Linked DNA regions of Homo sapiens. The protein of the gene in region 1 interacts with the protein of each later gene in a biochemical or structural test. Each region holds a gene or a part of one and is shown on either strand. Other genes may lie near its edges.

Region 1 (7,031 bases):
AGGCATCTAAAACTCCGTGTCTGCTCCCAATTAGTCTACCTAGAACTTACAGTTCAGTTTTCTGGGGGGATAGGAAGAGGGGATTACATTTAGCTACCTCTTCCTTCTTGGAATAGTTAAAAATACGTTCTCATATATAAAGCAGATCGAATCAGTAACTGTCTAAATGACAACACAAATTCGGTGTTAGCTATGACTAACATCTGACTGACTCCATCTCAGCAAAAAATAAAGGACAACAAAATCTCAGTTGTTACCCAACTAAGTGTTTAAAGTATACTAAGAAGTTAGTGCTCGTTGATAGGATTACCAAGCAAATGAATTTAAGGCATAACTGGAGTAACAGCAAATGAAGTATATACTTTTTCCCTCTGGTGCAATAAGGCCTCTGCCAAGAGAGATTACTTTAAGAGTTTTCCTGCCCCAAATTAACCAAAGGTCCCGTGTATTGAAGGAGGAATAAGCTAAAGGCTGAGGCTTTTAAACAGGTAACGACTGACTTTGAAACACTCAAGACTTTAGAGTTTGAGTCAAAATCATCATATATACTTATTAGATGCTGGAATCAATGAGGCCAAATTTGCCAGGGCTGCAACATGGATAAAATGTCAAGTACAGATGAAACATTATTTTGTTTATACATGTCTAAATTTTAACAGAACCCTTTAAAAATCAGGAACAAAATGCTATGTTCACACAAAAATCCTTGTGCTTAATTTGCAGGAAGATATCAGAACAGTTGAAAACAAATTGTTTCAGTCTTTAACTTCACTTGATGAAGCTGCTCAGCAACTGTGCTGTTAGTGGTGAAAACTGCAGAAACACAATTCCCTTCTTGGATTTCAGGGAAAAGCCATTCACTTGTCAGTCTCTGCAGAGACAGGGAGAGAATTCTCTGCCCCCAACTCCTCTGACAGTTCCCTTCCACTTAATGGGGTCACTGCCCAAGTGAACTCTCAGGAGGGGACATTTCCATATAAGGCCATTTAAGTGTAAATTGACACAGCAATCTATGTCAAACAAGCCACTGAGTTTCTTTTGGGTGGTGGGATAGGGAAAAGGGCTTTTGTGTCAATTAATTAAAACTTACAGAACAGTCAAAAAAATTGATTTCTCAAAGTTCAATTAAAAAAAAAAACTAGCTCATCTCTTATTTTCAAGGAGATGAATTATGGAAAATTCCTTCAAATTTATGCCACAGGCCTAGTTTTGGACCTTAGGAAGGAATCTCCTCCCATTTTCTCTTCACATTTTAGTTTCTTCAAGTTGCTATTATAAATTGTTTGAATAGCAAAATCAGCCATGACCCGAATCATGGAGATATGTGGATTTCCTTGCATTGAAATACATCTATACAATTGAAAGTTATGCATACAGCACAAAACTATAAACAAAAAGGTGAAGCAAACTTTCTTTATTTTCAGGTAAAAACATTAACCTGATGGATTATTGCAGATTTGAGAAATCAGCACATAAAATGACTGGACAGCATTGCTTACAGGTGCTTTTATCTGCGTCGAGACAAAGGCTGAACTGTTTTGTCCCAAGTCAGCACTGGGAGAAGGGGAAGAGGAGCGTGGAATAAAGAAGACTATGAACAAAAACGTAAAACAACAAAGGGAAAAAAATTTTTTTACTCCAACAGGGAAGGAAAACTGCTTATTTTGTTTAAAAAATTTACATTAATTTAAAATCCTCTGGCCACAGAATAATAAATACCGGCCAGCCCAAGCTGTAGACTTCTTAACCTTCATAAAAGAAACAAATGAGCTTTCCTTGTCTCATTCCAGAGGCTGTTGCTGCTGGAATTGCCATGTAAACAGTCCTTAGTGTGTCACCTGGGAAAAAGCCAGTAATACCCTAAACTATATTAAAACTAAACTATAAGAAAAGTCTACCTAGTTACAAAAGCTGAATTATATTCAATAAATTTCAATCCAATGAATTTTAAATTAGATCTTAACTGGAGAGAACATGGGACAACAGAAGCCCATGGGTAACGAAAATTTGAGAACTGTGAGTTGTATACAAAAAAAAAACTGTGAGCTGCACAGATAATAATGAATCAGGGAGAGAAAATCAGAGGAAAGTGAAAAGCACATAGAGCTAGTCTACTAAACTATATTTGTCAAATACATGTGAGCTTAAATTTCTGTACTTATGTACAAGAGTTGTCTTTGGAGGAAAGAAAACTGCAGACTTAGCTAGATGGATACACACAGCCCAGAATTAAACTGCACAGCCACATTTATTGTTCCAGCCTGGAAAAACATCCCTTTTTTAAATTTCACACAGCAAAGCATGTTAAAAACTTCACTCATCAAATAAATGATAATTTAAACAAGAACTTGCTAAAGAAACCTCATCACAACAACGTTTTAGGGCCTGATCACTTTAAGTCCATGGGGCCATTAATGAATATCAACCAAATGTCTCTTTATAATCTGCAAGCCGTTTTTCCTACAACAAGAAGGCGTAACATGTTTCCTTGACTCAGGTGATAACATTAGAAAAGAAATCATGATTTGTTTCTTTTGCTGTAACAGGCAGACACTGCATTTCTTGCTATGATCAGGAAAGATGGAACGACTGCTGCCCTTCTCTTGCTGCTATCAACAGTTTTTCACGCATTATCTCAATGCTTGAATAGTCCGGCAACTTAAGATAGTTCACACAAGTCATTACAGAGGGCAAGAAGTCATCTGGGTTTTCTGTTGATTCAAACGTCTTTCGGACAATTGTCAAAGGTGGATTCAAACTCCGGAATCCTGATTAAGAGAAAAAGAAAGACAAGGAACTTAAGTTTTTAAAAAACATCAGCTATCAGAAAACATTCCACTGCTTTGCCGTACAATATTACACACAAGATATTCTTTCTTGCTTGGCAATTGCACATTCAATATACATTAAGTGCAAGGAACCTGCTTTAATTTATCATTTAAAAACTCGCTGTATAACATGGAGGCAACAGTTCTTTATGTCTTCTGATTTTTAAAATGGAATACCCACAGTGGTTCACGCCCGTAATCCCAGCACTCTGGGAGGCCGAGGTGAGCCAGTCGCTTGAGAGTTTCAGACCAGCCTGGGAAACATGGAGAAACCCTATCTCTACAAAAATACAAAAATTAGCCAGACATGGTGCTGTGTTGTGCCTGTAGTCCCAGCTACACAGGAGGCTGAAGCAGGAGGATCTCGCCTGAGCCCAGGAGGCAGAGGTTGCAGTGAGCCAAGATCACGCCACTGCACTTCAGCCTGGGTGACAAGAGTGAGATCCTGTCTCAAAAAACAAAACAAAAACAACAGAATACCAATTTAACTTACATTAGGATTCAATCTGAAAAACCAGATTTTAGAATCCATTCTCATCTAAGTCAACTAAGAGTTTAGAATGTACAAATGGCCTGGAATTTTATCTAACCAGCATTACATGTGCATTAGTAATCCTACTTCAATATGTTTAAGACAATCCCCATGGATTTCCCTGCTAGTGGTCTCAATGTACTATAATGATACTGGAATAACTAAGAGGCACTGCAAGTGAGATAAAGAATCTCCTGCTGATGGTACTGAAGTTTCACACTCACAAACCCACCCATAGGTAGAATAAATGCTAAACATCAACATCGTACCCACCTCCAACAGGCAATCTTGGGCTACCAGTCACAAACTGGAGAAATAACCTCTGCTGCTCATTATCAAAACTACTGAGAATCTCAAACAAAAACTTCACAGCCCGACTATAACAGAAATAAATATACCAAAATTATTTCATCAGGTTAAAATAGAGTTTTAATCACACTGCATCGCATCACATGACATAAAAATTAGATTAGCACTTTTAAATTACACATACATTTTCCATTACAATGTACTTAAATTCGTTTCTGTTATGACTAGACTAGAATTCAAATGGAATGATTACAGTTGTAATAAGTAAGACTTGATCTGGTACTGTACAGATATTTCTGCTTTACTATATGTAATAATGGGGAACAAGATTAAATCTGTCTTCCCCAACCCCTAGTATTTTCACAGAAATACTTGAGAAAGAAACCCTTGGGTCTTAATTTCCCATCTTCAGAGAAATAAGGCCAAAACAGAAGTAAGCATCCATTAACAGGTAGACACATTTTAAAATGAACCACTCCAACTTTTGTTGTTTACACATGTGCGCATGTGTGTGTACACACACACCCCTCTCCACATTCTTCAGAATCAACAGAAAAACTGGCAGACCCCAGTACTTACCTGTCATGAGTATAACCATGATCAGGCCTACAGCATTCCATCAGTGTCTTTGCATCCCAAGTGTCTGCTTTACTGCCACAAAGGAGCTGATCCAGCTGTGAGTTTAAATAAGGGTAAAAAGAATTACTAAGGAAACATTTGTTTACGTGAGTGAAAATAAAGGTCTACGTGTACCATAAAAGAGTATCAGTCTCAGTACTAAAACCTTCTGCTTGGGACCTCTTTCCAAAAAAAAAAAAATAATAATAAAATAAAATAAAATTTAGAGATTCCATTTCCTTTTTAGCTGTACGCTATTAAGTACCCTGCCCATCTGCAGGGACTTGGTTCCTGAGAAACCCTTCCTCTCAAACCAAAAACACCTGATGACCCTTGATTTCAGTTTTCCTTTCTTCTCATTACTTTAGGTGCTTTAAATGGATAATCTGCTTCTAGTCAGGGAGATTTTATAAATCCTGGCTTTCAGAAACACAAAGGTATACAGTAACAGATGCCAAGGGAGAGAACATTGAGCTGGAGAAAGAAGTGGGAGAAGCAAGCTGAACTAGGACACAGCAAATGGGTAGGTCTTTACACTTTGTAGAGAGGCATGTCTACGCTACATGGTTGGTTGTATGGGGACCAACCCAGATATTATAGAATGAATATTAGAAAGCAATAAATGCTTTCATGTCCTTATACTTTGAGAAAATCCAATTTGAGGCCAATGAAATTTAATATCTATTATATAATGCTCACTGTCTGGTCCTATATATTTAAAGACAAAGCTTTGCTCTGTTGCCCAGGCTGGAGTGTAGTGGCCTAATCACAGCTCACTCCCGTCATGATCTCCTGGGCTCAAGTGATCCTCCAACCTCAGCCTTCCAAGTAGCTGAGACTACAGGTGCATACCACCACGCCCAGCTAATTATTTTTTTTATTTTAGACAAGGTCTCACTATGTTGCCCAGCCTAATCTTAAATTTCCGAGCTCAAGTGATCTTCCCACCTCCATCTCCCAAAGTGCTGGGATTATAGGCTAAGTCACTGTGCCCAGCCTATTTAATTTCCATTACTCTGTGATAGGGGTTATTCCAATTTTACAGATGAAACAGTCCTATCAGATACAGTAACTTGGATAAGGTTATACAGCAAGTGGTGAGGACCATGATTCTATTCCAGGTGACAAGCAGTGCCTACAAGTATCAGGCACACTACATGCTTAAGTAGACACAAATATAACTGAGATTAAGACGTTAAGTTAATCAAAAATTTATAGATTTAATCAGTAGTGAACATACACTCTAAAACTAGTATTCAAACAATAAATAAAAAGGTTTCAAAACTGAGGGAAACTGGACACATTCTAGAGGCTTTCTGTATCTCACTACCAGTGAGTAGTTCTTTTGAGATTTGGCACTTGAAATTAAAGACGGTAATATGGTTTGGCTGTGCCCCTACCCCAAATCTCATCTTGAACTGTAACTCCCACAATTCCCACCTGCTGTGGGAATGACCTGGTGGGAGGTAACTGAATCATGGGGGCAGGTCTTTCCCAGGCTATTCTCATAATAGTGAATATGTCTCACGAGATCTGATGGTTTCAAAAAGGGGAGTTTCCCCGCACAAGCTCTCGTCTTGTCTGCTGCCATGTGAGATGTGCCTTTCACCTTCCACCATGATTGTGAGGCCTCCCCAGCCACGTGGAACTCTAAGTCTAATAAACCTCTTTCTTTTGTAAATTGCCCAGTCTCGGTTATGTCTTTATCAGCAGCATGAAAACAGACTAATACAGGCGGCTAGAGAAAACCAAGCACATAAATCCATTTCTTCCATTCTCAGAAGTATTCTCTGTATTTGGCAATTAGATAATTTATAATACTTTCTTAAAACTTCAAGGACTAACTTTGATTGTGAAACAATGTCTCATCGAAACGAAGTTTAGTTAAGGAATAAAGTCAAGCCCCCTCCATGTCTCTCTTTGCTTCCACAGCAGTACAGAAACATGTAGAACATGCCACACACAGCACAAGTCCCCATTCTCCACTGAATGGCATTGAGGGTCTTGGCTGACAAAGATGCTATGCTTACTGTCACGCGTGGAACCCGCTCCCCAATCTAAGAGGGGACACCTATTTAACATTCTTCCTTGCTCAGGCAATTTCCTTGTCTTTCCCAAACATCCATCCCCTGCTATCTAACACCCATTTTTTTGTTTTTGTGCAACAATACGGTCTTTGACTAGGCAGCACAGAAACACTCCACTAAAATTATAGGTATGACCATTTCTTTTAGATATAAGCTACTCACTTCCTCCGGGTAGAAGTACTGAAGATGACTGAGTGGGAAGACTGATTCAAATCCATCTCTGAACGAATCAAATTGCCTAGAAACGCCTTCATTTAGTGCCCAGAATATAACCAGCTGCAAAAAGAAAGTTTTCAAAAAACTGTGACAAGATTTCAAATCTCTTTACTATTTAATATGTGGCAAAGTACAGTGAAACACCCTTCTGGATCACTTTATAAAGAACAAACAAGTTATTAAGACTTTAAAATAATCTGCTAGAAAACTACATGAGTAAAACATCAGGTCAACATCTAATGTGGGGCCCCTACCAATAACAAAATGTAAAAAAAAAATGCCATGTGCATTTACATTTAGTGTGTTTTAAAAATCTATTTATGTGAAACCCATGCCATACAGTTATATTACCTCACTGGATGGGAATCAAATGAGAATTTCCCAAGAGGATAAAATGTTATTGAGAATTAAAGGTAATGTTTGAAGAATCACAATTAGCCA
Region 2 (7,031 bases), on another chromosome or scaffold:
TAACTGCAGAAGCCAACTGACATGCCAAAAGGAAGTCCAAGCTAGCCACGTGAAGAGATACCTGACCAGCCGCCAGCTATTCCCACTGTTCTGACTAAGGTGCTAGTTACATGAGTAAAAATGTCTTCTTGCATGTCTAACTCAGTCAGTCAAGCCTTCAGAATGACTCCACCCCCAGGCTCAAGCAACTGCATGCCTCCCCAAGGAGAACTGCCTGAGACCAGGCAACCCACAAAATCACGACACTATTTATTGTTTTAAACCACTAAGTTTTGAAGTGGTTTGTTATGCAACAGATAACTGAAATAAATACTAATCAAATAATACAAATAAAGCAATACATATTTGGTGTTTATTCTTTTTTTTTCTTCTAGTAAGCTTGCTTGTTAGGACTATAAACTCTGGGCAGCGCAGTGGCTCATGCGTGTAATCCCTGCACTTTGGGAGGCCAACACAGGAGGATCACTTGAGGTCAGGAGTTCGAGACCAGCCTGGCCAACACGGAGAAACCCTGTTTCTACTAAAAATACAAAAATTAGCTGGGCGAGGTGGCGGGCGCCTATAGTCCCAGCTACTCGGGAGGCTGAGGCAGGAAAACTGCTTAAACCCAGGAGGCGGAGGTTGCAGTGAGCTGAGATCACGCCACTGCACTCCAGCCTGGGCGACAGAGCGAGACTCCGTCTCAAAAGAAAAAAAAAAAAGACTATAAACTCTGGAGACACACTGTATCAGATGGAGCAGCAGGTTTTATGATACCCCTAGAATGTGTTGCTATGCAATAATCCTGCACAATTAAAATTATCATCCCAAAGAAAAATATTCTGAGCAACCTCAGATCTTTGAGATTATGCCAATTCTCCAATGACTACATTTGCTGAAGATAAAAAGTAGATAACTAAACAAAGAAATTCCTACATCTTCAGAGTTATTGAGTTCAGAAATTAGTAGCATACTTTTTTTTTTTTTTGAGACAGTCTCACCACAGTCACCCAGGCTGGAGTTTAGTGGCACAATCACAACTCACTGTAGCCCCAACTTCCCAGGCTCAGGTGATCCTCCCGAGTAGCTGAGTCTACAAGTGCACACCACCATGTCTGGCTAATTTTTTGTATCTTCAGTAGAGATGGGGTTCCACCATGTTGCCCACGCTGGTCTCCAACTCCTGGGCTCAAGCAATCTGCCTGAATCAGTCTCCCAAAGTGCTGGCATTACAGACGTGAGCCACCGTACTATGCCTGGCCAGCATATTTCTTGTGGCTTTCCTATTCCACTAAATTAAACTCAGTGTGAGTCTTAGTAACAAACTATGGAAAATGACAGAAAAAAGTTTTCTTCTATACATATTCAACCAACATCCCCCTGTAATAGTTTAGAATCGAACACTATTTTGCAAATAGTTAAACTTAAAAAACAAAAGGTGGTTCTTCACTGGGGAACGTTTGGGGTGTAATCTGTTTACAATGTGAAATTCAAGCAACACTATTATAAATACCCTGAGAACACTTTCAATTTAAATGTTTTATTGAAGATCTTATTATATCTGGTAATTCAATTGCTATTCTTACCTGGATATCTACCCTGTTGTTTATGAAATCTATCAACAGCCCGTAACATTAAGTACAACACTATTTCATTATCTGGATTGTCCATGCTAGAAACTGAAAGGAAAAAAAATTTCAGTTTAATTTGGTTAATTTGCAATGTAACAAACAATGAAGGGCTGAATTTACTATATACTTGAGTTTCAGGACTATTAACTGGAGTCACACAATCTCTACTGAAGTAGTAACATACTGACTTTAACTCATACATATCACACAATGGACTCAGTGACCTAAATATGACTTTATGCATACATTAAGTTTCATATAATATATAAATTATAATTACCTAGATAAGCTTAGAATAAAATTAGAATATGTTTACGTTATCTTTAATATCATCACCATATACTCAACACTATTATACACAAAATATTTATATCTTTTAAATTAATTAAAATTAACCCAGAATCAGAAGGCTATTATACTTACTAATTTCATCCTTGTTAATTGTATCCAAACCATATTCTTCAGCTAAGGATCGACATCTTACCACTCGAAGAAATGCAGAATTGCTGCCTGAACAGAGGAAAGATATTCTGGAAGTAATGACTGTGACTGGTGAATATTATGAATCACAGGTGACTTTAAGAACAGAGAATTATGTGTATACCCTTCTCAGACATGAGAATGTGAAGAAATGTTTTCTCCTTGGTTCTAATAGCAGAGAAAGCACTAGAACATGAATCACCTTAAATTTATATCCCTGGCACTACAACCAGTTCAGAAGCAAGTAAGGTGATGGCCTCTCTGAACCTCAGTTTTCAAGTGTAAAATGGGGATGATACTGTTTACCTTTGAGAATTGTTCTACAGATTAAATGTGACATCTGTATAAAGTGCATCTCTAGCACAATGCCTGATATGGCTCTAAAAATAATAGTTTTCATCATTATTATGGATAAGTAGTCCTAAAGGAGAGAGGTTTATGAATTGTACTCTTGATATATGTAATGACTTTAAGCTTTGTATTATTGAAATTTTCAAAAACGCCCCAAAGTAGAACAGAATAATAAATGTTCAAATACCCAGCATCAAACTTGTGATCTAGTATTATATAATCTAATACAACAAACGCTAATTCAAGATTAGTCTAATAGAACAAACAAGGTGCAAGATTAGTAGTGGCAGAAAACATTAAAACCGAGCCTAAACAGACATTGTGGAGAAGTCATAAAATGGAAAGCTTGGATAAATCTATTTTAAGGATGGGGAGCATGCAAAATATAAACTTCCACAGGACGTAGGAGCAGTAGCTACAGGGAGAAATCTTCAGATGGCATGCACAACAGATTGGGTATTTTGAAACTGACTCTTAAATAAAAGAAAATGCTTTTGGCCTACTGAGGAGTTACTGAGAAGACTCCTACGAACCTAACCACTCCGAAACTAGATGGCAAAATTCTTAACTCCATTACAGTCATTTAACACAGATCAAAATGAGTATTTAAACCAATATTGTCAATGTACATGTGACTCAAGACTTCACACCCAAAGTCTTCAGACAAAAAAACTTCCTAAATTACTTAAAATTTAAAAACTGAAAATCCTGTATTAATGGCAATTTTCAATTAACTGACCGTCAAGCCTTTTTAGCATTGCCACAGATAAACATGTTCTACCTCTGATTCAGTCTTAAAATACTCGCCATGTATTGTATTATGAGAGGAAAAAAAAAACCTTACCCAATAATTATCTATATCTATATCACTGAGGCCATGGAAAACTTAAAATTTCAACCATTCAAAATACCTGGGAACATTCCCTGTGGCACATTTCTATCAAGCAAAATAAGGAAATTAATTCAAGGGGACTTACAGAGTAATTTTAATTCTTTCTCTGAAATGGACTCTGGTGCCTGTAAAGAGATAAATACAGATTCTGTTCCAGTTTAAAAGAGAAGATTAACAAAGGGTGCGGCACAAAGCCAATCACTGTGAGATGGGAAGGCTTTCTCCAAGAGCTGGGAGAGCACTTTAAAAATATCTTGTTTCCTTATCACAAGCTATCCCATTAGGCAGGGAAATGACAGCTCCCTCTAAAGAAGCACAGAGGCAGTGCCACACCCTCTGTCTCTAAACCCTTTCTGGCTGGAGTTACGTGCTGAGGCCTGTATGGGCACAGTGTGCCCAGTAGCTTACCTGGCCAATGGACTGCAGCAATTTGGCAACATGATTACCCACAGCGGCAGCATCTTTCTTTGCTTTTTCACGGTAACTAAAAAAGAATAAAAAGCAATTACTAACAAATTTTTAAATTAGCAAAATTTAAATTGTTACCATGAACAAAAATTTTCTTTCCTTTTCATGAAAAAACACAGGTCTGACAATGTATGAAATGTGAAAATGCCAGGGAAATGCTATCAACAGCACCATGAGTAGCTGGGAATCTTTCCAGTGTTAGTGACGGACTCTCAGTGCCCACTAAAACCCAGGGTCCCTCTAACAGCACCCAACTTAAAAACTGCTCCCCTAGAGGGATCTATGATTTCGGCTTCTGTGACAGAGGACCTGAAAAAATACATTACTGAAGAACATGACTTATCTCCTGGAAGTCAAGTCCAAGGAAAGTTAAATACATTAAAACTGTTCATCTCCAATGTAAAACTTCTTTGTTTTTTGAGACAGGATCTCGCTCTGCCACCCAGGCTGGAGTACAGTGGCGCAGTCCTGGCTCACTGCAGCCTCAACTTCCCACGCTCAACTGATCCTCCCACCTCAGCTTCCCAAGTAGCTGGGAATTCAGGCACACGCTACCATGCCCGACTAATTTTTGTCTTTTTTGTAGAGACGGAGTTTCACCATGTTGCCCAGGCTGGTCTTGAACTCCTGGGTTCAAGTGATTTAGAAACTGAAAATACTGTATTAATGACAATTTTCAATTAACTGACCTTCATACCTTTTTAGCATTGCCATAGATAAACATGCTCTACCTCTGATTGTTTTAAAATACTCTGTATTTATTATGAGAGGAAAAAAAAACCCTTACCCAATTATTATCTGTATCTATACCACTGAGACAGACCATGGAAAACGTAAAATTTCAACCATTTAAAACAACTGTGAACATCCCTTGTGGCACATTTCACCACCCGCTTTGGCCTCCCAAAGTGCTGGGAATACAGGTGTGAGCCACTGCATCCGGCCATAAAAGTTTTCTTTACGTCTATTTACCTTTCACCCTCTAAAAATCATCAGTGTTCAGGCTGACTACCTCCCATGTAAGGTCATACTTCTTTCTATCCTCAATTGACCTTCCCCAAGTTTTAAGTAGTTGAACTCTTAGGCTAGGACAACAAACCAAGATTCGTTCAATGGTGACATGATAAAGAGTGAAATCTGTCTGGGGAAGAGAGATCATCTCTGTGTGACATTACTTGGACCCCAAAGAAACCGAGCCAGCAGACCTGGATTCTTTGCACCATGCCCTAACTATACGAGGGTCATATTCATTGAGACCCATCCCTGTGATAGTCTATCTGGGTTCAGGCTAGTGATACCTGGATAGCAAGATGTCTAGCTATAGTCATAGACTATAACTTATGAAACATTAAGATAAAAAATTCATCAAACCTTCATGGTTTTAAGTTACAAATACAAGGTAGTATAGGGCCATAGCTAAGCATACAGGCTCTGGTACTGGGTTTCCTGGGGTTCAAATCTTGGTTCTGCCATTTACCAGCTATCTGACCTTGTATAAGTAACCTTTTCAATACCTTAGTTTCTTCATGTGTAAAATGGGGCCGGTAACAGTCTCTCTCTCTCTCATAAGGTCGTTGTGAACCTTGTGTGTGTGTTAAATTACTTAATACATATAGTTCATAGCACAGAGTTAAGGGATCAAATATTAAGTTTATCATGAAGTATGAAAAAAAACTCTGCCTCCTAGGCGTATGTGGTAATTCTGTATTTCCCATTCAATTTTGCTTTGAGCTTAACAAGAATTGCCCCCTAAGTTCTTTTTTTTTTTTTTTTTTTTTTTGAGACGGACTCTTGCTCTGTCTCCAGGCTGGAGTGCAGTGGCACGATCTTGGCTCACTGCAACCTCCGTCTCCTGGGTTCAAGCGATTCCCCTGCCTCAGCCTCCCGAATAGCTGGGACTACAGGTGCGCACCACCACACCTGGCTAATTTTTTGTATTTTTTTAGTAGAGACAGGGTTTCACCATGTTGGCCAGGATGGTCTTGATCTTCTGACCTTGTGATCCACCCGTCTCGGCCTCCCGAAGTGGTGGGATTACAGGCGTGAGCCACCACGCCCGGCCTAAGTTCTTTTTTTTTTTTTTTGAGACAGAGTCTCACTCTGTCGCCCAGGCTGGAGTGCAGTGGTGCGATCTCCGCTCACTGCAAGCTCCGCCTCCCGGGTTCACGCTATTCTCCTGCCTCAGCCTCCCGGGTAGCTGGGACTACAGGCGCCTGCCACCACGCCCGGCTAATTTTTTTGTATTTTTAGTAGAGACAGGGTTTCACCGTGTTAGTCAGGATGGTCTCAATCTCCTGACCTCGTGATCCGCCTGCCTCGGCCTCCCAAAGCGCTGGGATTACAGGTGTGAGCCACTGCGCCCAGCCTGGTCTAAGTTCTTCAGCTTATTTTTACTTATTTATTTGAAACAGGGTCTTGCTCTGTCACCCAGGCTGAAGTGAAGTGGCATGATCATGGCTCACTGCAGCCTCAAACTCCTGAGCTCAAGAGATCCTTCTGCCTCAGCCTCCTGAGTAGTTGAGATTAAAGGCGAACACTACCATGCCCACCTAATTTTTCAATTTGTAGAGATGGAAGTCTCACTATGTTGCCCACGATGGTCTCAAACTCCTGGACTCAAGCAATTCTCCCACCTTGGCCTCCCAAAGTGTTGGGATTACAGGCATGAGCCACTGCAGCTGGCCTAGTTTATTTATAAGCAATGAGGTTGTAATAAACTTTCATTTGATTTCTGACAGGATGATAAAATGTTTATCTCTAATATAATCAGACTTTTTCTATTACATAGTTTGAAAACAGTGACATACACGTTTTGCAGTTTTATATATTTGCCTGAATCTGCAATCATATCAGGAATTGTGCCTCGAACAGGTAAATTTCCTTGACCCTCTTTGGCCACAAATTCCTTTAAGGCACGAGCTAAAATCCAAAATGATGGAGTCTAAAAGAATAAGAAAAAATTAACATTAAGTGGCGTTTTACTTTGACCCAAAGTTTTAGCAGCAATGTTTTTACTTTTGTTGTTGTTACCTGTTTGGTGATATTTATGCAGCGATCATCATTAAATATATCTTCAATACTGCTTGGGATCTAACAAAGGAACATGAAACATTTACTTACACAGTATTAAGAATTCGCCCATCTTTATTTTCAGTGCTATTTCTTCAGATATGTTCTTTGAATTCTCAAATTGTAATCAAATACAAACTTCTGATTGGTTTATAATTTTA
Region 3 (5,813 bases), on another chromosome or scaffold:
TATCACCCCAAAAGGAAAACCCTTAAAGCAGTCGCTGTCTAGACCCCCTTGCCCCAGCCCCTGGCAACCACAAATCTGCTGTCTCTCTTTTCCTATTTTTGGATTTACCTATTCACCTCTCCGGGATATTTCATATAAACGGACTTATACAGTGTGTAACCTTCTATGTCTGGCTTCCTTCACTTAGCATCATGTTTCAAGGTTCATTTGTGTTGTAGAATGTATCAGTATTTCATTCCTTTTTAAGGCTGAATAATATTTCATTGTATGGATATACCACCATTTGTTTATCCTCATCCATTGATAGACATTTGGGTTGTCTCCAGCCTTTGGCTCTTGCAAATAGTGCTGCTATGAACATTTGTGTAAAAGTATTTAAACACCTGTTTTCAGTTACTTTGGGTCTACACTTGGGAGTGGGATTGTTGGTCATGTGGTAATTCCATGTTTAACTTTTTGAGGGATGCCAGAATGTTTTCTACAGCTGCCGCCCATTTGACATTCCCACTGGCAATGTATAAGGTTTAAGTTTCCATTCTTTTTCATTTTTTTTCTTTGGTTTAGTTTATATTCTTTCCATCATGAAGTTTAAAAATTAAACATGTTAATTTGTTTTTGTTTCTTAAATACTCATCCTAGTGGGAGTGACGTGGTATTTCATTGCGGTTTTGATTTGTATTTCCCTAATGTCAAATACCATTGGACACCTTTTCATGTGCTTGCTGGCCATTTTTATATTTTCTTGGGAGCAATGTCTATTCATGTTCTTTGCCCATTTTTTAATTGGGTTGTTTGTGTTTTTGTTGTTGAGTTGGAAGAGTTCTTTTTTTCTTTTTCTTTTTTTTTTTTTTTTTTTGAGATGGAGTCTCCCTCTGTTGCCCAGGCTGGAGTGCAGTGGTGCGATCTCAGCCTACTGCAACCTCCACCTCCCAGATTCAAGCAATTCTCTTGCCTCAGCCTCCCAAATAGCTGGGACTACAGGCGTGCACCATCACGCCTGGCTAATTTTTTTTGTATTTTTAGTAGAGACGGGGTTTCACCATGTTAGCCAGGATGGTCTCGATCTCCTGACCTCATGATCTGCCTGCCTTGGCCTCCCAAAGTGCTGGGATTACAGGCGTGAGCCACCGCGCCCAACCAGAAGAGTTCTTTATGTATTCTGGATGCTAGGTCATATCAGATGATACATGTATCATTGGATATATGATTTGCAGATATTCTTGTGTTAGTCCATTGCATCACTATACAGAAATACCCAAGGCTAGGTACTTTATGAAGAAAAGAGGTTTAGGCCGAGCACAGTGGCTCACGCCTGTAATCCCACCACTTTGGGAGGCCAAGGTGGGCAGATCACTTGAGGTCAGGAGATCGAGACCAGCCTGGCCAACATGGCAAAACCCTGTCTCTACTAAAAATACAAAAAAATTAGCCAGCCGTGGTGGCGCACACCTGAAATCCCAGCTACTCAGGAGGTGGAGGCTTCAGTGAGCCGAGAGCGTGCCTCTGCACTCCAGCCTGGGTGACAAAGCGAGACTCCGTCTCAAAAATTAAAATTAAAATTAACTGGGCATAGTGGCATGCACCTGTAGTCCCAGCTACTTGGGTGGCTAAGGTGAGAGGATTGCTTGAGCCCAGGAGTTTGAGGCTGCAGTGAGCCATGATTGCACCACTGCACTCCAGCCTGAGTGACAGAATGAGACTCTGTCTCAAAATATATATATATATTTATAGTAAAACATATATGGCAAAAACACTGGCCACTTGTTTTGCGATGGTGATACAAATACAAATATATATCATCACTAAGCAAGTGGCCAGTGTTTTTGCCATATATGTTTTACTATAAATACAAACTACAGCATACTTTACTGTTTGGCATGGCAGTGATTTTTATGAATTAGGCACCTGTGAGGTAGATGTTACTCTGCCCATTTTACACTCAAAGAACCTGGGCTTAGGAGGGTTCAGATTTGCCTACGACTGCACAGCTGGTAGGTGGTAGAGCCAGAATTCAAGTTCAGATTTGTCTGGGTCCACGGTGGGCGCCTGACCTCCACTCCACAACTTCCCTTCCTGGGGACATAAATCGTGTCTGTTCCCAGGCCTATTCATCAGTTCACCAGGGTGGTCTAACGTCCATGGAGCCCCTGACATGTGCTAGTGCTGAACTAAATGAGCTTGAAGAAGCTTGAAAGTGAACAGGAGAAGGCTCCTCTAGAGTATGAACAATAGTGGATTGTTTTTACCATGCTTACCTTTGTGGAAGAGAGCTGAAATTTTCACCTCTTCTTTCTTATAGGCTGCCAGGGCACAGTGCCCCCCAAGGACTGAAATAGACTAGATTTCCTTCTCTTTTTAATGTTTAAACTTTAAAAGAAATGCGTGCTAGCTGTAAAAATTCAAAAAAAAAGCCCGTCTGCCTCAGTCCTGCAGCCCTCTCCAGAGGGAGTGACCTCGTACAGTTTGGCACATATTATTCCAGTCTTTATCCATTTGTAAGCATAAAAAGTGCATACTTTTATGAGGCTATAAATGCATAAAGACGGATATATAAAATATATAAGTGTATATATAATTTTAGGGCTTTTTTAGTGGGGGAAAATCCACAAATGGATAATACTTTGGATATTTTCTGCAGCTCGCTTTTTTCCACCTGACGTACATTTACGTCTCACATTGCCATTCCTCCTTTGCAGAGATCCTACAGTAAGGAATTGTTTGAAGAAGTTATTTCAAAGATGCGGAAGGCAGGGATCAAATCCACAATAGCAATAGAAAAATTTAAGCTGCTCGCCGAGAAAGTGGAGGAGATAGTGGCCAAGAACGCACGCGCAGAAATCGACTACAGCGACGCTCCTGATGAGTTCAGAGGCAAGTGGACTCGTCGTTTTCATGCTGATTTCTTTTGAGTTAACTGGAAATCGATAACATTACAAGAGGACGTCCTGTGCAATTAATTTTTTAATGGTGTGCTAGAGCTGCTTTTTGAGACAATCTGTCTTAAATTACATTTGCCTATTTTTAGCTCATATTGTAAATTGAGAGGAAGAAACATCCTTAGCTTAGCCTGACTTAAAGCCAGATAACAACCCTGAAGATTCTAAGGGCAGGGCTGCCTTTGCAAGTGGGGATTCACATTTTCAAAGAATTCCCAGAAGTCCTAAGACAAAGAATTCCAGCCTGCCGTCCTCGCCACGGAGCCTGTGGGGCCTGCTGCTGGGTCTGTCCCAGGCTTTCTTCTCTGTTCCCTCCCCCCAGCAGTAGCTGACAAAGAAGCGCCTTCCCCTTACAAAAGGCAATGTATATGCCTTTATTGAAGGCTGATTTCCTTCTAAACCTGGGGGCCTCACAGGGGCCCTTTGATTGCTGTTCCTTTGGATAGATTTTTCGCTGGTAGAACGGGCTTTGTTTTCTTTTTCAGTCGTGGGCTCTCAGTAGATTAGAGTTTGCTTTGCTTTGTCCCCGCAGACCCTCTGATGGACACCCTCATGACAGACCCCGTGCGGCTGCCCTCTGGCACCATCATGGACCGCTCCATCATCCTGCGGCACCTGCTCAACTCCCCCACGGACCCCTTCAACCGGCAGACGCTGACAGAGAGCATGCTGGAACCAGGTAGAGGAGGGTGCAGTTTGAGGTGCAGCGCTGGCGTCAGTACCAAGAGATAAAGCCCAAGTCACATATTGGAGATGAAGCAGAAGGGAAATTTATCAAATGCAGAAACTACCTACTTTATGACACTCTGTAGCAAAGACCCAAAACACTCTTGGCCCTTTTTCCCTGCAGACATCCAGTCCCTCCCTCTCATGTCCCAGTCCTTCTGGAGTCTTCGGCTCAATGAGGGAAAGAATGGCCTTTTCTTCCCATTTATACAGAGCGACAAGCATCCTCTCTCAGGAAGAGCCCTCCCATCTGGGGCATTAATCCTCCTTTTTTTCTTTTCTCAGTGCCAGAACTGAAAGAGCAGATTCAGGCGTGGATGAGAGAGAAACAGAACAGCGATCACTAAACCGTTCCGCCGCCCACCCTCTGCTAGACACAGCCAAGGCCAACGAGGCAAGCAGAAGCAGCGGCCGCAGCGAAGCTGCCGTTCATGTGTTGGAGGCCAAATGTGGCAAACCAACCCCAGGCCCACCCAGAGCGAGCAAACGCTGAGACCTGAAAGGACATGGATGAGAAGAGGAGCCCGCTTCCTGTACATATATTTAAGTGACAAACACGGTCAAAAGCTTAAGGGACAGGTTTTATGGTTGCTTGTGTAATAAAGCATGTCCTTCGTATGTCACAGTTTGGGGCAACGGAAGTCTTTTAGTGATGGCTAATGGGTCTGGGCAGCATCCCTTCATGAATTTTTTTTTAATCCAATATCCGTTGATTTGATTGTGATTAGAGAACCTTGGACATTTTGCTGCTAAAGAATCTTTTTTCCCCTCTCCCCCTTCCTGACCCTACTTGCACTGCTGTGGATTTTTTTAAGAGAAGCAAAAACAAAAGTAAACTCCTTTCCCTGGCCCTCCAAACATATATTCTGTGAGATAACTGTGCCTGCTACCAAGTGTTAATCCTGGGATCGTATTTTTATATCATATTCACATATTTGTTTTTTTAATTGGTGTTAGATGACATGATTAATAAAAAAGGCAAGATATTTTCAGAATTTGAATTTCAGTTTTTTTTTTCTTTTGAAATGTCCCTTTAAGATTTTTTTATTCTAAACAAAATAAAGAAAATCCTGCTGCTCTGGTCCTTGTGATAAGCCTCTCTTCGGCATCTGAGGAGCAGCTGCAGCAAAATCTAGGGGTGTAAGTGTATCAGGACTTATGTGACTTATATTTTGGGGAGATGAGGGTTGGGTTTTTTTTTTAATGCTACGTGACAGTTTGAAACCTTCACAGTTATCCTCTGGGGGTAAATCAATTCTTCAACCCTTGGGTGTGTGAGTTTGAGGCAGGGTCATTTGTGTGATGTGTTTGGCCTTACCAAAGCAAAAGAGGGTGCAAGAATGTGGGAGTATGTCTGCCGGTTTCAACACACACAGACAAACACAGCCACACGCGCACACAAGTATAAGACTTTTTGTATTACTGCTCCCTACTTAACATACTTGAATTCTCAAATTTCCTTTGGGGTAAAAAAAAAAAAAGGATTTGAAACCATAAAGTGTTCTGAAGAAATTAAGTCTATAAAAAGCATACTTTCTTTTTTCTTTTCCTTTTTTCCCTCCACAGACAATGTCCTCTGTTCAATTCCTAACGCAAACTACAATAAATGGTGACACACGTTCAGAAGAAATCTTCTTTGAGTCTCTTCTCTTTTGTGGAAAAAAAAAAAGGGCAGGGCGGGTGGGTAAACAAGAGCCAAGTGAGTTTGCATGTGGTGAATGATCTTTCCTGGATCCAATTAGGAGCTGCTATTTTTAAAAGAAAACTTTCTTATTCATGTCAGTCTCGACATTTGGTTCTCATTTCACTGTTTGCTGATTTGAGGGGGTAAGCTTTGTCATATTCAGTCTTCTGCCTTTCTTGAGTTTCTTCTGCTTTATCTCAAGTATCTTCCCTGACCTTCAAGATTCTTCCTCAGGCCGGGCCCGGTGGCTCACGCCTGTAATCCCAGCACTTTGGGAGGCTGAGGCGGATGGATCACCTGACGTCAGGAATTCGAGACCAGCCTGGCCAGCATGGTGAAACCCCATCTCTACTAAAAATACAAAAAATTAGCCGGGCGTAGTGGCAGCGCCTGTAGTCCCAGCTACTCGGGAGGCTGAGACAGGAGAATTGCTTGAACCTGGGAGGTGGAGGTTGCAGTGAGCCGAG

What was found. The genes of interacting proteins can lie anywhere in the genome.
Region 2: of the proteins of TRIP12 (region 1) and NAE1, one has a biochemical effect on the other in vitro, tested with the Homo sapiens proteins (one study listed by BioGRID).
Region 3: the proteins of TRIP12 (region 1) and UBE4B form a complex in vitro, tested with the Homo sapiens proteins (one study listed by BioGRID).

Annotation. Positions count from the first base shown.
Region 1 is NC_000002.12:229,764,983-229,772,013, forward strand, and holds part of TRIP12 (E3 ubiquitin-protein ligase TRIP12), read right to left. Parts: intron 6,651-7,031; coding exon 6,537-6,650; intron 4,344-6,536; coding exon 4,249-4,343; intron 3,738-4,248; coding exon 3,634-3,737; intron 2,769-3,633; coding exon 2,572-2,768; 3' UTR 1-2,571. UniProt on the Homo sapiens protein: E3 ubiquitin-protein ligase involved in ubiquitin fusion degradation (UFD) pathway and regulation of DNA repair.
Region 2 is NC_000016.10:66,806,956-66,813,986, forward strand, and holds part of NAE1 (NEDD8-activating enzyme E1 regulatory subunit), read right to left. Parts: intron 6,892-7,031; coding exon 6,832-6,891; intron 6,743-6,831; coding exon 6,609-6,742; intron 3,818-6,608; coding exon 3,742-3,817; intron 3,459-3,741; coding exon 3,419-3,458; intron 2,121-3,418; coding exon 2,034-2,120; intron 1,659-2,033; coding exon 1,566-1,658; intron 1-1,565. UniProt on the Homo sapiens protein: Regulatory subunit of the dimeric UBA3-NAE1 E1 enzyme. E1 activates NEDD8 by first adenylating its C-terminal glycine residue with ATP, thereafter linking this residue to the side chain of the catalytic cysteine, yielding a NEDD8-UBA3 thioester and free AMP.
Region 3 is NC_000001.11:10,175,948-10,181,760, forward strand, and holds the end of UBE4B (ubiquitin conjugation factor E4 B), read left to right. Parts: intron 1-2,696; coding exon 2,697-2,871; intron 2,872-3,468; coding exon 3,469-3,615; intron 3,616-3,947; coding exon 3,948-4,009; 3' UTR 4,010-5,292; downstream 5,293-5,813. UniProt on the Homo sapiens protein: Ubiquitin-protein ligase that probably functions as an E3 ligase in conjunction with specific E1 and E2 ligases. May also function as an E4 ligase mediating the assembly of polyubiquitin chains on substrates ubiquitinated by another E3 ubiquitin ligase.